Regions from separate parts of the Homo sapiens genome. Here region 2 is linked to region 1. Evidence: fine-mapped QTL for protein levels in blood plasma. A gene starts in region 1. The other region holds a variant in brackets. All regions are shown on one strand. Distances are between the middles of the regions.

Region 1 (8,530 bases):
GGCCTACATGTATGAAGCCCTGGAGCTACAAAAGCATATAAACCAGATAGCCAGATTTCCCACCTTCAAAGAATTTATCTCTTTTCTACACAAAAGTACCTAACAGTTTAGTATCACAGTACATTTTAGTGTTCATCTATTCTTTCCTGTTCTTTCCTGTTTCCCCCAACCCCTGTTTGCACACCCTCTCTCCTCGATACAAAAATCAAATCCACAAGTCAGGATGAGACAAGAAAAAAAGCCAATTATTAAACTTCTTTTTCTTTTTTTTGAGACGGAGTCTCATTCTGTCACCCAGGCTGGAGTGCGGTGGTGCAATCTTGGCTCACTGCAACCACCACCTCCTGGGTTCAAGCAGTTCTCCTGCCTCAGCCTCCTGAGTAGCTGGGACTACAGGTGTGCGCCACCACACCCAGCTAATTTTTGTATTTTTCATAGAGACGGGGTTTCACTATGTTGGCCAGGCTGGGCTCAAACTCCCAACCTCAGGTGATCCTCCCACCTTGGCCTCCCAGAGTGCTGGGATTATAGGTGTGAGCCACTGTGCCCAGCCCTAAACTTCTTTTTCAAGTCATTCCCCCTTCTCACCCAACACACGCATGCAGCCCTAAATGGAAATGAGGTCCTGGGGCATGAAGTGTCACTCAAGGCTCTTTCCTTTCCTAATAAGGAGGCAGAAGTTGATGCTACTCTAGGAAGGTAATACTTAGTAGGAAAAAAAGGTGATTCAAAATTAATGCCTAGACTAAGCAGTTTATAGAAAAAAATTAAAGCCTTACCTGGAACAGCCTACCTTATGTCTCTGTCTAGTTTTCTTTTAAAAGCAGAAAATTATCTTCTTGTTTTTAGCCTGCTGCTTGGAGGTATTTAATTAACAAAAAGAAAATCTTCCTTTCAGTAACACTTTAGGAATCGCAAGGTACCAACACATCAACCTGTGAGGCTGGAGGTGCAGAGGTGGTTTTTATATTCATTTTACAGGTGAGAAACCTGAGGTTCAAGGAGGTGTGAGAACTAGAAAGTGGTAGAGCATGGATTGGACTCCAGGTTTCCTGACTCCCAGTCCCTGGGAGCTTGCTACTGAATCCCAGTTACCTCTCTCTGAGGCAACATTTTCCTCCACAAAAATCAACATTCTCTCATGTATTCAGTAAACATCCTGCTTGTTGACTTTAAGTCACCGCCCTGAAATATGCTGTATGTCATGCATTTAGTTAAGTCAAAAGGAATTAAACCCAGGCGCAGTGGCTCACGCCTGTAATCCCAACACTTCGAGAGGCTGAGGGAGAAGGATCACTTGAGCTCCGGAGTTCTAGACCAGCCTGGGCAACATAGGGAGACCTCATCTCTATAAAAAGTTTAAAAATTAGCCAGGCATGGTGGCAGGCACCTGTAGTCCCAGCTGCTTAGGGGGCTGAGGCAGGAGGATCGCTTAAAGCTAGAGAGTCAAGGCTGCAGTGAGCCACAATCACACCACTGCACTCCAGCCTGGATGATAGAATGAGACCCAGTCTCTAAAAGCCAAAAAAAAAAAAAAGGAATCAAAATTCTTTCTTTCTTTAAAAAAAAAAAAAACAACTCCAGCAGCCATAAAAAAGAATGAGTCCATGTCCTTTGCAGGGACATGGATGAAGCTGGAAGCCGTCATTCTCAGCAAACTGACACAGGAACAGAAAACCAGACACCACATGTTCTCACTCATAAGTGGGAGTTGAACAATGAGAACTCATGGACATAGGGAGGGGAACATCACACACCAGCGCCTGTCAGGGGGTGGGGGGCAAGAGGAGGGAGAGCATTAGGACAAATACCTAATCTATGTGGGGCTTAAAACCTAGATGATGGGTTGATGGGTGCAGCAAACCACCAGCGCACATGTATCCCTATGTAACAAACCTGCACATTCTGCACATGTATCCCAGAACTTAAAGTAAAATAATAATAATTTTTTAAAAAGATCTGAATAGGAAACATTTGTCATCTATTGTCTCTAAGGGTAGCCACTATAAGACTTCAAAAGAACATTGGTCTTTACAGTCTTTTATCTTAACCTGAACATTTCCTTTCTATGGATCCCAGGTCTTTAGGCAAATGCAACCAATTATCAACCAGAAAATATTTAAACTTACCTATAGCCTGGAAGCCCCTCACCACCACCGGCTTTGAGTTGTCCCACCTTTTAGGACCAAACCAATGTATTTCTTAAATGTATTTGATTGATGTCTCATACCTCCTTAAATTGTATAAAAACAAGCTGCACCCTGACCATCTTGAGCACATGTACTCAGGACCTCTTGAGGGCTGTGTCACAGACCATGGTCACTCATGTTTGTCTCAGAATAAATCTCTTCAAATACTAAAAAAAAAAAAAAAAAAAAAAACCTCCAGAATTTTACTTCATTCCTGGAAAGTCCCATAGATCTAGAGCTAGGAAGAAGAATTATGTTGAAAATCTTTCCTGGAGATGGGTCAAAGTATTTTTGTATAATTAGAAAAAGAAAAGGTGGGGGTAACATGAAGATATGAACTCTGTAATTGACAGTGCTTTCACCAGCACCCAAATGGTGTCCTTATAAATATCATGGCTATGTTCTTATAACTAAACGTGCATGATTCTTTCCTTCTCCACTTGGTTATTCACACCGAATCCTCTATTCGGGGTGTGGTATGCAGAATAATGTCCCCCGCCAAAGACGTCCACGTCCTAATTCCAGAGACATGTTACTTTTACGTGGCAAAGAGCAGAGACTTTGCAGGTGTGATTAAGTCAAAGAGCTCTACACAAGAGGTTATCCTGGATTATTCAGTGAGTCAATGTAATTATAAAGTAGAAGAGGGAGGCAGATGAAAGAAATGTGAGTAACTCAATGGGAGAAGGCCTCAACCTGCTTTAGCTGGCTCTGAAAATGGAAGAAAAAGGCCATAAGCCAAGGAACTCAGCAGCCTTCATGCGGTGGAAAGGGAAGGGAAATGCAGTCTCCCCTAGAGCCTCCCAAAAGGAACACAGCCCTGCCGACACCTTCATCTTAGCCCAGTGAGACCAGGGTCAGACTTCTGACCCACAGAACTCTCAGGTAATAAATGTGTGTTGTCTTAAGGCACTAAATTCACAGTAATTTGTTACAGTGGCCATAGAAAACTAATACCTGAGGCTTGACCATGGTGGCAGAAAATTCTGTGAACATCTGGTTCCTTCCTGACTGGTACTCCGCATCAATCATTAGTTGTTTTTGAATCTCACTCCCATTTACTAAATAGCAGCAATTTGATTCCCAAGAACAAAGAAAGAATCTGAATCTCCTAAAATGTTCCCATACTCATAATACCACTGAGTCCTTACAGTCCTGCTAGAAATAAAAATCCATAGCGAAGCTTAGCAATTTCTGGTTGCTAAAAGGAGATAATTTGGAACAGGGTGGAATCTCGCATTTATTAATGGGTTATCATTCATGATCAGGTTCGGACTCTAGGTAATGAAAGACCAGTAAAGCTTAGGGGGACATGGCCACCTGGTGCTGAATCTCTCCTTCCTCTTCCAGTCCCATCCCAGAGGGAGGCAGGTCAGGACTAGAGTAAGATTAACTTCCAGAAGAAAGGCTTTCCCTCAATTCCCGGCCTGGAGCAACCAGCCACCAGCTGAATCTAGCCCTGTGGACCCCGGTACCTCCTGCCTTAGCAGCAATGCTTTTGCCATTTCAAATCTGCCACTTCAAATACGGGGACTGAGTATTTGAGTCAGGAAAGAGTCCCTTGAGCTCCTTCTCAGCTTATCCAGAAAGATGCAGAAGGGGATAGACAATTGAAATCAGCCTGAGGCATGCAGCGTGGCTGGCCAAATGAGACTGCATACCCAGAAATGGCCTGGCACAGACTCTTTTTAGCAAGACTGAAGCTGCGCTTTTTGGAAATGAAGATACAATCTTATGTAAACCATATTAAGAGGTTGGTAGGCTGGGGCAGTGGAAAGAGACCTTGCTTGGGATTTCGGAGCCCTGAATTTTATTGTGGCCTCTGATACTGATTCACAGAGTCCCTTCAACTTGATATGCCTCAGTTTCCCTTCATGTGCTGTCAGGGGCTGTGTCAGACGACCTGCCCGCTTCGCTGCACTATGAGCTTTGCTCTGCTTCAGGAATCAATTGCTGACCAAAAAGAGAAATAGAATTGTTCGCCAAAGACCCAGAGTGTCTTGATCCTGGGGTATCCTACGGCTCCTCGGATCTCCTCCTGGTCTCACACCCGCATCCCTTACCTTCCAGTCTGAGGCAGCCTGAGGACTGTGGGAGGGGAGGAAAGATCACGCCCTGATATTGGATGGAGATGGAGAGATTCCAAGAGAACTAACAGCAGAGTCTCAGGAAGGGTTTGCTCACTGAATGGAGAGGTCAGGACTGGGACGGAGCTTAGCAGCAGCCGCTGGGCAGCAGCCCCTGCGCTCCCCAGCTGCCCTGTGCTCCTGGCCGAATCACAGGGGAGTGAGAGCTTCAGGAGACCCACATCTCTAGCCTGGACACATGAGTGATATTGGGCATCTCCCTCCCCTTCTCTGGACCTCAGTTTCCCCCACAGGATTCATCCGGGAGGGGCCTCTTTCCCCCGCACCACGGTCGGCCTGAGGCCGGGATGAAGCGCGCTTGGTGGATGCCCTGGGCTTCTCCTCGTTCGATGCTCACGCGTCCCTCCCGCCGCCCGCCTGTACCTGCACCGCGGGCGCGGCCAGGCTCGCTGGTCCCGGAAGCGGGCGCGCCGTCGGGAGCCGCAGGAGAGGGGCGGCGTCCAGGGCTGCCCCCGGGACCTCGGGTCTCCAGCCTCCGGAAGCCCGGGCGGGCCACGGGGTCGGGGGCGGCGGAGGGCAGCAGCAGCAGCGGCCAGAGCAGCAGGAGGAGTCCCGGGAGGCGGCGCGCGGGGGCCGGGCGCGGCATGGTGGGCTCCGTGGGCCTGGTGGTGTCCGTCGGGGGCCAGGAGCCCACGCGAGGCTCGGATTTAAAGGTCCCGCGGCCTCGGGCCCCGCCCCGCCCCGGGGCCTCGAGCGCCAGGCCGGCCCGGCGAACCCCGCCCAAGGCCAACAAGGAGCCTTGTCCGCGCATTCCAGCGGCAGAAACGGAATGTCTGGGCGAGGCGGCCAGCGGCGCGGTGGTCACCTCCCGCCCCTGCCCTAAGCCCCGAGCCGGCTGCAACTGGGTGGGCTCGGCTGCTGTCGCAACCTCCGTCCTCCCAGTAACACCGGGGCAGGGGGGGCAGCCATCCGCGGCTGCAGCCTGCCCGGCCCTCCACTCTCCCTCCCACCCCAGCGGGGCCTGCGCCCCAGGTACGGGATGGGGACCCCTGGGCTCTGCTTTCCCTTCTGCCACTGGTTTGCCCGACTGGGGCTGAAGATGAAACCCTGCTCCTAGCTCTACATTCCTTTCCTCAGCCAAGTAACCCAAGTTTTGCTGTGGGCTCTTGTTTAAAAAAAAAAAAAGAAAGAAAAGGCCTCACAGATTCTAGGGGCATGAATAGAAACGCTTTCATCCGAGCTTCAAATATCCACAAACATTTGAACTTATATTACCGGGAATAGAAAGTCAAACATACATTCCCCAGAGAGCCCCGTTAGCTGGAAGGACAGCCTGTACCAACACAGGCTTCAAAGGCTCTCCCGAGGCCCCATTTCCTCTCCGGAAGAGTTAGCATGGTACAGGGCTGGAGGCTGCCAGGGGACCCCCATGGAACTCACTGTCTGTGAGAAGGAGATTTGCATAAATGTGGTGTCTGTCTACGGGAATGTGGTGGATTTAGGAAAGAGATACTGACTGCCTGCGGAGACCAGGAAGACTTCTAAAACCAGGTGACATTTGAGCTGCGTCTTAAAACAATGGGCGCGAGTTCCAACAGAGCCTATCTGGTCGTCCTATTTCACTATTTTCCCTCTACAAGTGATCCTCCTCACACGATCCTAAACCTCACTTCTCATATTTGTACCCCATGCTGGTAGCAGCATTATACACAATAGCCAAGAGGCGGAAACAACCCAAGTGTCTCTCTTTGTGTGAATGGAAAAGCAAAATGCAGTATCTACGTACAATGGAATACTGTTCAGCCTTAAAAGGGAGGAAATTTTGGCAGATGCTACAAAATGGATGAACCTTGAGAGTATTATGTTAAGTGAAATAAGCTAGTCACAAAAAGACAAATACTGTATGATTCCATTTACATGGGGAATCTAGAGTAGTCAAATTCATAGAGACAGAAAGAATGGTGGTTAACAGGAGCTGAGGGGAAGTGGGGATGGGGAGTTGTATAATGTATCAATGACATTGGGCAGTGATAGTCACACTGAGGGAAAAGGTCACTCAACTCCCACTGAGAACTCACCAATTTAGAAGGACCTTAGAAGAAACGAGAAGTTTGTAATAATGGGAAGAGGACACTAAGAAGTTTGAAAGAAACTATGCCAAGAAGAGGAGGGATTGATAAATACAGTATTTGCAAGCTCTGGTGGACATTTGTCTTTCGTCTTGCTTTTAGAATGATCCCCAAAGCCTTTGAACCCTACATTAGTCAGGGTTCTTGAGAGAAACAAAACCAATAAATTTTATATACACATACATATAGAGAGAGGGTGGGGGGAGTAATTGAGATTATGAGGGATTGGTTCATGCGATTATGAAGGCTGAGAAGTCCCACAGTCTGCTGTCTGCAAGCTGGGGGCCCAGGAAAGCCAGTGGTGTAATCCAGTCCAAGCCTGAAGGCCCAAGAGCAGGAGAGCCAATGACATAAGGCCCAATCTGAGTCCAGAGACCCAAGAACCAGGAATGCTGATGTCCAAGGACAGGAGAAGCTGGTTGGCCCAGCTCCAGCAGAGAACACATTTGCCTTCCACTGTCTTTTTGCTCCATTCAAGCCCTCAACAGATTGGATGATGCCCACTCCACTCACATAGATGAAGGTGATCTTCTTTGCTCAGTCTACCGATTCAAATGCTAATCTCTTCCAGAAACATCCTCACAGACACACCCAGAAATAATATTTAATAGCTATCTGGGCATCCATTAGCCCAGTCAAGATGACACATTAAAATTCACCATCACAAATACCTTCCTAAATTTAGGGATTTCCAACTTCATGAGTCAGCACCTCCCCAAGTTGACTCCAAGAACTTGCTTCCCCAGCATCTCTTGCAGCTAGGATGTACATAAGTGGCCCAGTCTTCATCGATCATATGTGGTGTCTATGCCAAGCAGCAGTGACTCTAGGTCTCCCATATAGCAAACCTGCAGTATAATTTTGGGAATGGTTGATGACTGTGTGGCTTCCAAGCTTGATTCTTGAACCTTTCCAGAAATTATTTGAACCACTTAATATCCAGGGCTACATATGGATGGTGTAGGTGTACATTGCACAAGTTCACAGGGGCACTATTCACATTCGTAGTCAACACATATTGATTATAACATTTGGAATTCCACTTCAACTGGGGAGTGATGTTTCTTGAGGAATGGTTGGCTTTTCCATTTGTACTTTGAGCTAGTAGTGGGACAAATAATACCCTTAATATATACTTTTTCTGTTTCTTTATTATTATTATTATAAACAGGGTCTCATTCTGTCACCCAGGCTGGAGTGCAATGGTGTCATCAGAGCTCACTGCAACCTCAACTTTCTGGGCTCAAGCAATCCTCCAGGTTCAAGCAATCCTCCTGCCTCAGCCTCCCGAGTTGCTGGGACCACAGGTGTGCACCACCACGCCCAACTAATTTTTTTTTATTCTTTATAGAGACAGGGTCTAATTATGTTGCCCAGGCTGATCTTGAACTCCTGGGCTCAAGTGATCCTCCCACCTCAGCTTGCCAAAGTGCTAGGATTATACATGTGAGCCACCATGCTTAGCCTCTTTTTCAGCTCATTCTAGCAGGAATGGGTTCTGTTTGCACCAACAATGTGGATATATTAATCTTGTGATTTTTTTTTTCTATTGCATACCACTGGGGGGCACTGTTTTAAAGAGCTCAAAATAAAAATCTCAGCTCCCTGGTGAATGTCCCTACACATTCGTTGTCAGTATCTCAGACAATTTCAGATGCTGGTGTATGAAAGTCATGCCATCTTGAATGAAATAGAAATTGTCTGATAAGTTTGTATCTCCAGAGTTCACACTCCAGGGCGGTTGTCTTACATCTGATGTCCAAAGATTGTCAAATAAAACAAAGGTAGCTCTTCTGACAGAGGAATTCAGGTGGCTGTAGGGCCTTCTTGCATGTCACCAACTCAACTGGCTGCTGGACCAGGTGGTAACTTTGCTTTCAGGTGTTTACTTGGGAATATTGCAAAAGCTATATTTCTCTACCACTGCATATTATCTTATACTACTTTGTCAAGATAAAGACTAGAATAACTTTTTGATAACCTAAAGACTTAGGTCATAAAAAAGCCAAACAGAGGTTTTTTGAACTATTCAAAAATCTAAGAAATACAACAAAGATTTATATATACACTTTACATTGTTTTTAGAATTTTATTATTTTTAAAGTAGGTAATACATGCACTTGGT
Region 2 (7,822 bases), 70 kb before region 1:
TCAAATATTTGCCGTTAGAGTATGTGTTTCTTTTTTATATTAAAAACCAGAACAAAACAAAACAAGAAAAAAAACGGCATCATATTGTGAGCAAAATAAGGAAGAGAAATCTTCACGTTTGGGTCTTTTGAGTTATCTGGAAAACACCAAAACCCACAAGTAAGTACCTCTGAGGCAATCAGGCGGCCTATGAGGAAAAGGGGACAGAGGAAAATGGCAGAAGGGGTCCCTCACAGTTATGCATCCCTGTTTCCCTCTGCTCAGATTGGTTTTTCACCTTAAATGAGATAACATGTCTCAAAGATTCAGCACAATGCCTAGCTGTACTATTTACGGTATTCAATATTCATCATCTCAGAACTGACCTAATGCTCTCCTGCTTCAGAATTTTGAACAGGTGTACCATCCTGACTGAATCACAGCACCCCTAACTCTTTTCTGGCAACTGAATTACTTATCCATCTCCTCAACTCCTCTACCTGAGGCCAAGAACTGTGTCTTATTGGCTGTTAATTAATAGTTGCTGAATTAATGAATAGATGAACTTTAGGTAAATCATTTTACCACTGAGAGCCTTCTTTATCTAAAAAACTTCACAAAATTCAATATAATCATCAATTACAGCAACAACACCACAGGCATTTTCACACATTCTAGAGCTTAAGGCAATCGGAAATTATGAGCCTTTCTTGAAAAACACTACTAACAATGAAATCCAGCCAACTAAAAGATTAATCAAAATTAAGAACTTACGTAAGGAGAAAATGTAGTAAAAAGCCTGGCTAATAGCTTTGAATTCATTTAACTATTAAGACTAAACAACTGGAAATTAGGATTACAAGACGAAATTTAAATGTTCTAAATCTTGACAATGTAAAAATAATATATCTACAAAAGGAGAAAAAGAAGAAAATGTAAGAATGTTATCTTTTAGAGTAGAAAGACAATACTATTAAAAATTAAAATATAATTTAAACTAATAACTACCTGGTTTTTCATAATTTTTCTTCTCAACCCAGGAAAATGGTATTCTTTGCAGTGGAAAAATATTATCTAAAAGTCTAGAATTCCTTTAAACTCACTTTCAGGTTATCTAATTAAATTAACACTAAAAAAGTAGATTGTACAATGATGTCATTTTTATAAAATTACTTCTGTTCATCTATCTAAATCTATCAAATCCATATTTCCATATATAACTTGCAGCTGTAAGGAATGATGTTCTGATGTTTAACGGTAGTGACTAAAATATCTGAGTTGTGGGATTTAGGGTTTTTTTTTAACTTGTTTCAGTACTTTTCTGTTTTGCTTGAATTCTATATAATTCTGCCATTTGTTTAAAAGCAGTAAAGTATTCATTTTTAAAAATCAATTTAACCAACACTTTCTGAAAACCAACTCTGTATCAGATCCTTGCTAAATGTTAGGGATTCAAGAAGCTCACTCTTTATCAAACCATTAAATATATAAAAGCAGACAAAATATTTCAGTCACCTTAGTTTGATTCTACCCACTTATGACTGTCTTTTTAAAGGGCCCTGGAAGAACCACATATTCAAAATAAAAAAAAAAGAAATAAATAAATAATGTCTTCTTTCCCTAAATCTCTTGGGAAAGAAGACAAGCAGAAAGACATCTTCTGGCTGGGCATGGTGGCTCACGCCTGTAATCCTAACATTTTGGGAGGGCAAAATGAGAGTTTCACTTGAGCCCAGGAGTTCAAGACCACCCTTGACCAACATGGCAAACCCCATCTCTACAAAAAAAAAAAAAAAAAAACACAAAAAATTAGCCAAGCATGGCGGCCTGTGCCTGGGACCCCAGCTACTCAGGAGGCTGAGATGGGAGGATCACTTGAGCCTGGGGGGCAGAGGCTACAGTGAGCCATGATGGCACCACTGCACTCCAGCCTGGGCAACAGAGAGAAACCCTGCTGAAAAAAAAACAATAGATATCTTTCTTCACACGTGTGGAAAAGGAAAAAATATTATCTGGTGGTACTGTATTCAAGTTAAACGGGCAATGAAATAAGTTCATTAGTTTTACAAGTCATATACCTTAAACAAGGACAAGAAAAGTGCTATCCATATACAGAAGAGTCAGATAGTCAAATCTGGAGGTTACATAATCCTAGGTAATAACAGCCCAGACTCCATTTTTGATGGTTGGCTGCTGACAGCTTTTAAACCTCACCTCTCCCTCTTCCCCTCTGCCTCACATGGGGCAAGCTAATGAGAAAGCCCAGATGCTTCTTCCTTTGGGGCACCAGTGAGTTTCAAACCACATAAGCCCCTATCCATTAAAAGCCTCACCCCAGACCCACTCCCTAACTACTAAACAACAAAACAACAACAAAAACACCCTCAAGCCAGTCTCCTTTCCCTGTGCTGTCCAGCCATTTCTGACAGCTTGGGAAGCCTGCCCTTCTCTCCCCTAAAAGTTTCATTATGGAAGATACATTCCTGGTGTCCCTATGGTATCATCAATCTTTACATCCAAACCAAATTTTGGGTGGGGGCCCATCCCATTGCTGCATGGTGGTTATGATATAGAAAATGAAACTGGCTCACAATAAAATAGCCATAATTTACATATCAAACCCAAATATGATTTACATATCAAACCCAAACCT[G/T]TTCCAAATTGCCACTAACTTCTGGAAATTTTAAATCTACTATCTCAATTCAAAAACTATATATATATTACATAGAAAAAGTTAATGCTTTGGCTAAAATGAAGGTAAAACTTCTCTCAGTATATTCTTAGAGAAAAAAAATTCTCAAAGGATGGTCAATGTAGGCCAATGCAGGGGTTCAAAATCATGTCTTGAATTTAAAAAGAGAAAAAAGGATTATTTTACAAAACCTGGAAAAAATGGAAAGATAGATCTCTAAAAAAAAGTTACTCAAGTATCTTAGAACTAGAAAAAGGCTAAACTCTTAAATATTTCTTCAGTACCTCGTTATTACTACAAAAACAATGACAACAATTAGCACTCATTTTTTTTAGCTCTCACTTGGCCGTAGCATTGTGCTAATTGCTTTTCACACATTATCTTATATAATAACAATCCTATAAGTAGTATTATTATCTGTATTTTATAAAGGCAATAACTGAGACTTATACATTTTTATCATCATTTTACAGGAAAGTAAAGTGAAGCTCAAAAAGATGGTGGCACCCACCTAAAGGCTGAACAATAAGAGAGCAGGGCTGGGCCTGAGATATATCTGACTCCTGGGTCCACACTGCTAACCAGGATACTACACCGCCTGGTCCAGAAATAATCCCCTGTCAAGCTAGCAACAGAAATGTAACTTTTTAGGAATTACCTTTAATATCTCATCCAAAAGAACAGATTTAATTTCTAAATCCTCAAAATTACAAATATATCCAGAGGTCTGAATGGGTTCCTTTAAAGACAAAAAAAAAGTTATGTTTCATTATGCAAAATTTCCTCTCTTTTAACAAATCATGCTTTTAAATTTTATTATCAGAGTTTTCAGGTAAACAAAAGAGAGAATGTCATTAACACCCATATACCCATAACCTAAATAATTAGCATTATGGTAAATATGCTTCCTTTAACTTCTTGGCTGAAGTATTGTAAAGTAAATACAGTAAATTACGGACATCATGATATTTTATCCCTAAATACTGCAGTACATATCTTTAAAACATAAGAATTTTCTCTTACATGGCCACATTACTATGATCACACCTTACATAATTAATGTTAATTCCCTAATAGCATGTAATATTCAGTCCAATTTTCTCAATTAATAAAAAGTCATATAGCTTGAAAATTCTAATTCATGCAATTCAATATTAAAGTTAATTCTTCATAAAGCTGATAAACACTATATTTGTATGTAAGCCCATCTATCAAAGAAATCCCATACCACACTGAACAGTCTCTCCTCTGTAACATGAGCCAGAGTGCATTCCTGATATATCTCCTACTCTTAAGAAGATTTATTTGCCAATATGTAAGTGCATGAGACTGTTATATGTCTGTCTCTTATCTTAGTGTTATACAGGCTTGTTGAAATAAAGAATAGGATATGCATATTATAAAGTAGCTGCCCTAGATCCTTGTATAAACATGTTTATCATTAGAAATTTTTTTTTTATTTTTGGCAAGACAGTGCAACAAAACAAGATAATCAAAAGATAAACTCACAAAAGTTGATCCATGAAAAAAAAAATACTACCAAAGAGAAAGGGAGAAAGATGGAAAGAGAGATCAAAAAATAAAAGTTTGAAAAATAATCTGATTATTAATGCATAAGTAAATACATTTATGTAATTCAGATTTTAAAAATTCAACTTCTGCTGGAATTAACCAATTTTCTTTAGTTTCCAAAATTCATTAGCTATCTATCCACACACTTCATTTAAATATGAAGTTTCAGACCAGCAGGGTCTCACCTAACCAGTATGCAAGATAATTCTTTTTATCAAAAAAGTAACCAAAGCTTTAATAATCTATACTACACCAAACAAAATATTGGCACCCTTATCCAGCACACAAGTCAGAAGGCCTCATAATATGTGCCATATAATGAGTGTCCTGAAGTACCCTTATTTGTCCTACAATTTTAGCATATTGTGATATACTGAGGTTTGCATATACCTAACTAAGTGAATTGAGGGATTGTATTACCTAATTTTAGCTAACTCTCACAAACTGGACAAATGGCTTAAAAAGCTTCTTGCAAAGAACTTGTAAATTAAAAGTAATATTAATAATGCAAGCACAAGCAAACAAGAAAAGGCAGAACTGACACCTCTCTTACTCCTAGCACAGATTCTTGTATCAGTCACATTACAACGTGAAAACAATGACAATCCTATCAGGTCTGACCAAAAGTCAGCTAAAAGGTCAAAGTTATCAAGTAGAGTATTTGACACATGAGACTTTTATCAACTAAGTTAACAAAACCTTGCTCTAAAATGTGCATTATGCTGATATACTAGCTAATGTAGCATTAGCATGAACCATAGCAATTAGCATGACTTAAAAAAATAAAGTTATGTCATCCAGTATAATTTATTTTTCTCATTCTTTTAAAATTTCTATTTTGATTCATAATATATTAATATGGTAGGTCATGTAAATAATTTCTAAATAAATATGTATATATAAGAGCATATATTCAAAAGTTTGGGAGCCCCTTGTTTGAAAAAGAAGCAAATGTACAAAAATGAGTCTGATTGATGAAATTATGAGATATGAAAGAAACATGAAATGAAATTGTAGTGCCAATGAGAAGGAAGAGCCAAGAAAAAGAACAAAACAGCGCAATCAGTACCTTCAGAGGGTCACTGGAGATGAAAATGATCAAGCAGGGAATATCAACATTAAATATTCATCTCCTAATTCTCAAAGAAAATGTGCTTTATCAGTGAATTAAAACTTTGCACACAGATGGCATCTTTTTCTCTCAAATAATCTGAAGATTTACAGCTTAGATAAAGGTATGAATCTAGAATTCTTAACAACACTCAAATGGATAAAAATATATTGTTATTAGCTGTCAAACAATAACTTATCTCCTAAATAATAATATAGAATATTATGTCCTTAAGGAACATACTATTAAATATAATAGTATGTAAAACAGATCTTCCCTGCTTTGAAGAGATCATGTTCTTACATGATCAATAAGCAGCTAGAAAAGCAAATGAGCAGAGTAGCTAAACCAGCTGCGACCACAGTAAGCCAGTGTCCTTGTGAATGAAAAGAACAGAACAGCATCATTTATAAAGAAATCCAGACAGTGGGAAGGTTTTAAGAAATCCATCTAGCTCTAAATCTAACAGAAATCGAACTACATGCCAAACCAGAAAACAAATTCAAATTAAAAAACAGTATGTTTTTAAAAGGCTGTTCTGTTAAAACTACTTAAGAAACTCTTTCCACCAGGCAAAGATTTCACTTGGTACCAGACTGACCATGTGTGCTATAGACACATTATGAGCAGCCAGATACAACAAACATTCTCCCTTCTCCAGGCATATGATTTGTGATTTAGTATGAGCAGGGCTAAGGATAGAAAAAGACTCTAACATTCAAAAAGTATTCTACTCCCATCCTCAAGGTTATCCTGTGGATTACCTGTCAAATTCCCACAATTGTTTTGTGGCAAGGATTAAATTTCCCTTGGACCCTTGAAAGAAGCCCATGCTTACAGGTCAAATGCAGCAGCCCTGAATCTGAATGCCTTTCCTTTGAACTATTTCTCAGGGTCGAAGAATCACAAAGATCCTAAGACTTGCAAAAGCTTTAACAGAGCCTTTGAGAGCACTTTACATCAGGGCATTTTACATCCAAAATTCCTGAGTAGGGCTCAAATGGGGAAATGTGAAAATAATTTAGGATATTAAAGGGGCAAACAGTTTACCACTAAATAAATTACTCCAGAAACCCTTTGGCAGCTCAGGGGCCCAAGCATGCAATTTCTTCCCAAGAAGGAAGCTATACATGCAAACAAATGGAAATTAATGATATAAAGCATTTATTAACTTATTCCTTATTATTTACAAGAGTAGAGTGCAGCAGAAGTACAGAAAATTCCAAATTGAAAATCCATTACTAATTCAAAAGTCATTTAAAAGATTTATCTTCTTAATGATGTTTTGATTAGGTTACCACTCGGATTATTTTGTATTTCCTAAATACAACAGCTGAGAGTTGGCCAGAGTAGACTAAGTGACAGGAAAATCCAGAGCATAGAAATTAGCTGATGTGAGCCACAAGCAGAAAATCAAAATGTAACCTTAAAAATGAGAACAAAGGGGACTTCCTCATACCCAAAAGAGAGATTAATCCCTGCCTGCACTTGCATATTTGTAAGAATATCTGGGTTAAGAAAGAACACAGATTTGTGAACGATATGGTAAATGTAAATATAAATAAGACAAAGTAAGCACAGAATTAAGTGAATAAAGAGACAGAAAAGAATGAATGGACAAGGAAATTTGAAAACTATATTTTTTTATTAGGTTCTTTTCAGAAATTCTGGTAAATAAGGCTACTGATTTTGTTTTCTTAAGTTTGACAAGGGAAAAAAAGACTAGTGACCATGGCTCCACCTTTTAAAAAGAACAGATAAATAAATGCCTAGGAAGTACCTTTCAGAGAAAGTAGAGAATATTTAATAGATAAGTATTTTCTCACCTAAGACCAAATATTTTTAAAATCCACAGAAATGTTCCTATTTATTTTCAGAAATTCATGCAGCCGTGTTGGCACTGCTATTCAACAAACTTCTTAAAGAAACAAAGGGGAATCATCCAGGTTTTTATATTTGGCTCATTATTTATAGACTGTTAACACTCATTTCTTGTTTTTACCTCAGGATCCAAGTTTCTGAAAACATACATTCTTGTCTTCTCCATCATTGCAAACAAATCAGGATTATCTTTGGCCCACTTCATATCCCAGACATCTCTTCGTTCCAATTTTAACAACTCTCCAACTACTTGCTGTCCCGTACTGTCCGTTACTCGAGCATCCAAGTCAAAGAAAGTCAGAACTCCTGAGATGTCTATGATAGCAAGACGGCTAAAAACAATGCAATTAGAGAAAAGGAAAAAACTATAAAATTACTATCAGCAATCATGAGAATAATTACCTATAGCCATTCTTCTTCAAAATCAGATTATCAGAAACCTGGAATACAGTAGAAATGGCTTAAAATTTTGTTAAATAAATTTGATACAAGATATGGACTACTCTCTATTTTGCTCTCTTCTGAGGAAAATGTATCCAGAGACAAAACCAATTGGTATGAAATATAAAATAGTCTCAATGCTTTTA

Which allele goes with the higher level. Positions count from the first base shown, and alleles are read on the strand shown. Strength reflects both the effect of a copy and how common the allele is.
With allele T in place of G in region 2, the plasma level of the protein whose gene starts at base 4,959 in region 1 is lower (weak association).

What was found. A credible set is the group of variants that fine-mapping cannot tell apart. PIP is the chance, under the fine-mapping model, that this variant and not a neighbour inherited with it causes the effect. The UK Biobank Pharma Proteomics Project read protein levels with antibody pairs (Olink). The fine-mapping took linkage between variants from a reference panel, not from the people measured, so its PIPs are less certain.
Region 2: its variant is the best candidate, but not a certain one, in a credible set for the plasma level of the MATN3 protein (UK Biobank, PIP 0.58).

The regions. Positions count from the first base shown.
Region 1 is chr2:20,007,710-20,016,239 of GRCh38, forward strand. It overlaps MATN3 (matrilin 3), which reads right to left and starts at 4,959. Exons shown (of 8, transcript NM_002381.5): 1 at 4,700-4,959. The coding sequence starts at 4,922. RefSeq lists an enhancer at 4,063-4,675.
Region 2 is chr2:19,938,430-19,946,251 of GRCh38, forward strand. WDR35 (WD repeat domain 35) reads right to left here. Exons shown (of 27, transcript NM_020779.4): 16 at 7,357-7,567; 17 at 3,330-3,410. Among named protein-coding and RNA genes, the nearest start is that of TTC32, 40 kb to the left of the region's middle. The variant G/T (reference allele first, on the strand shown) is at 2,633.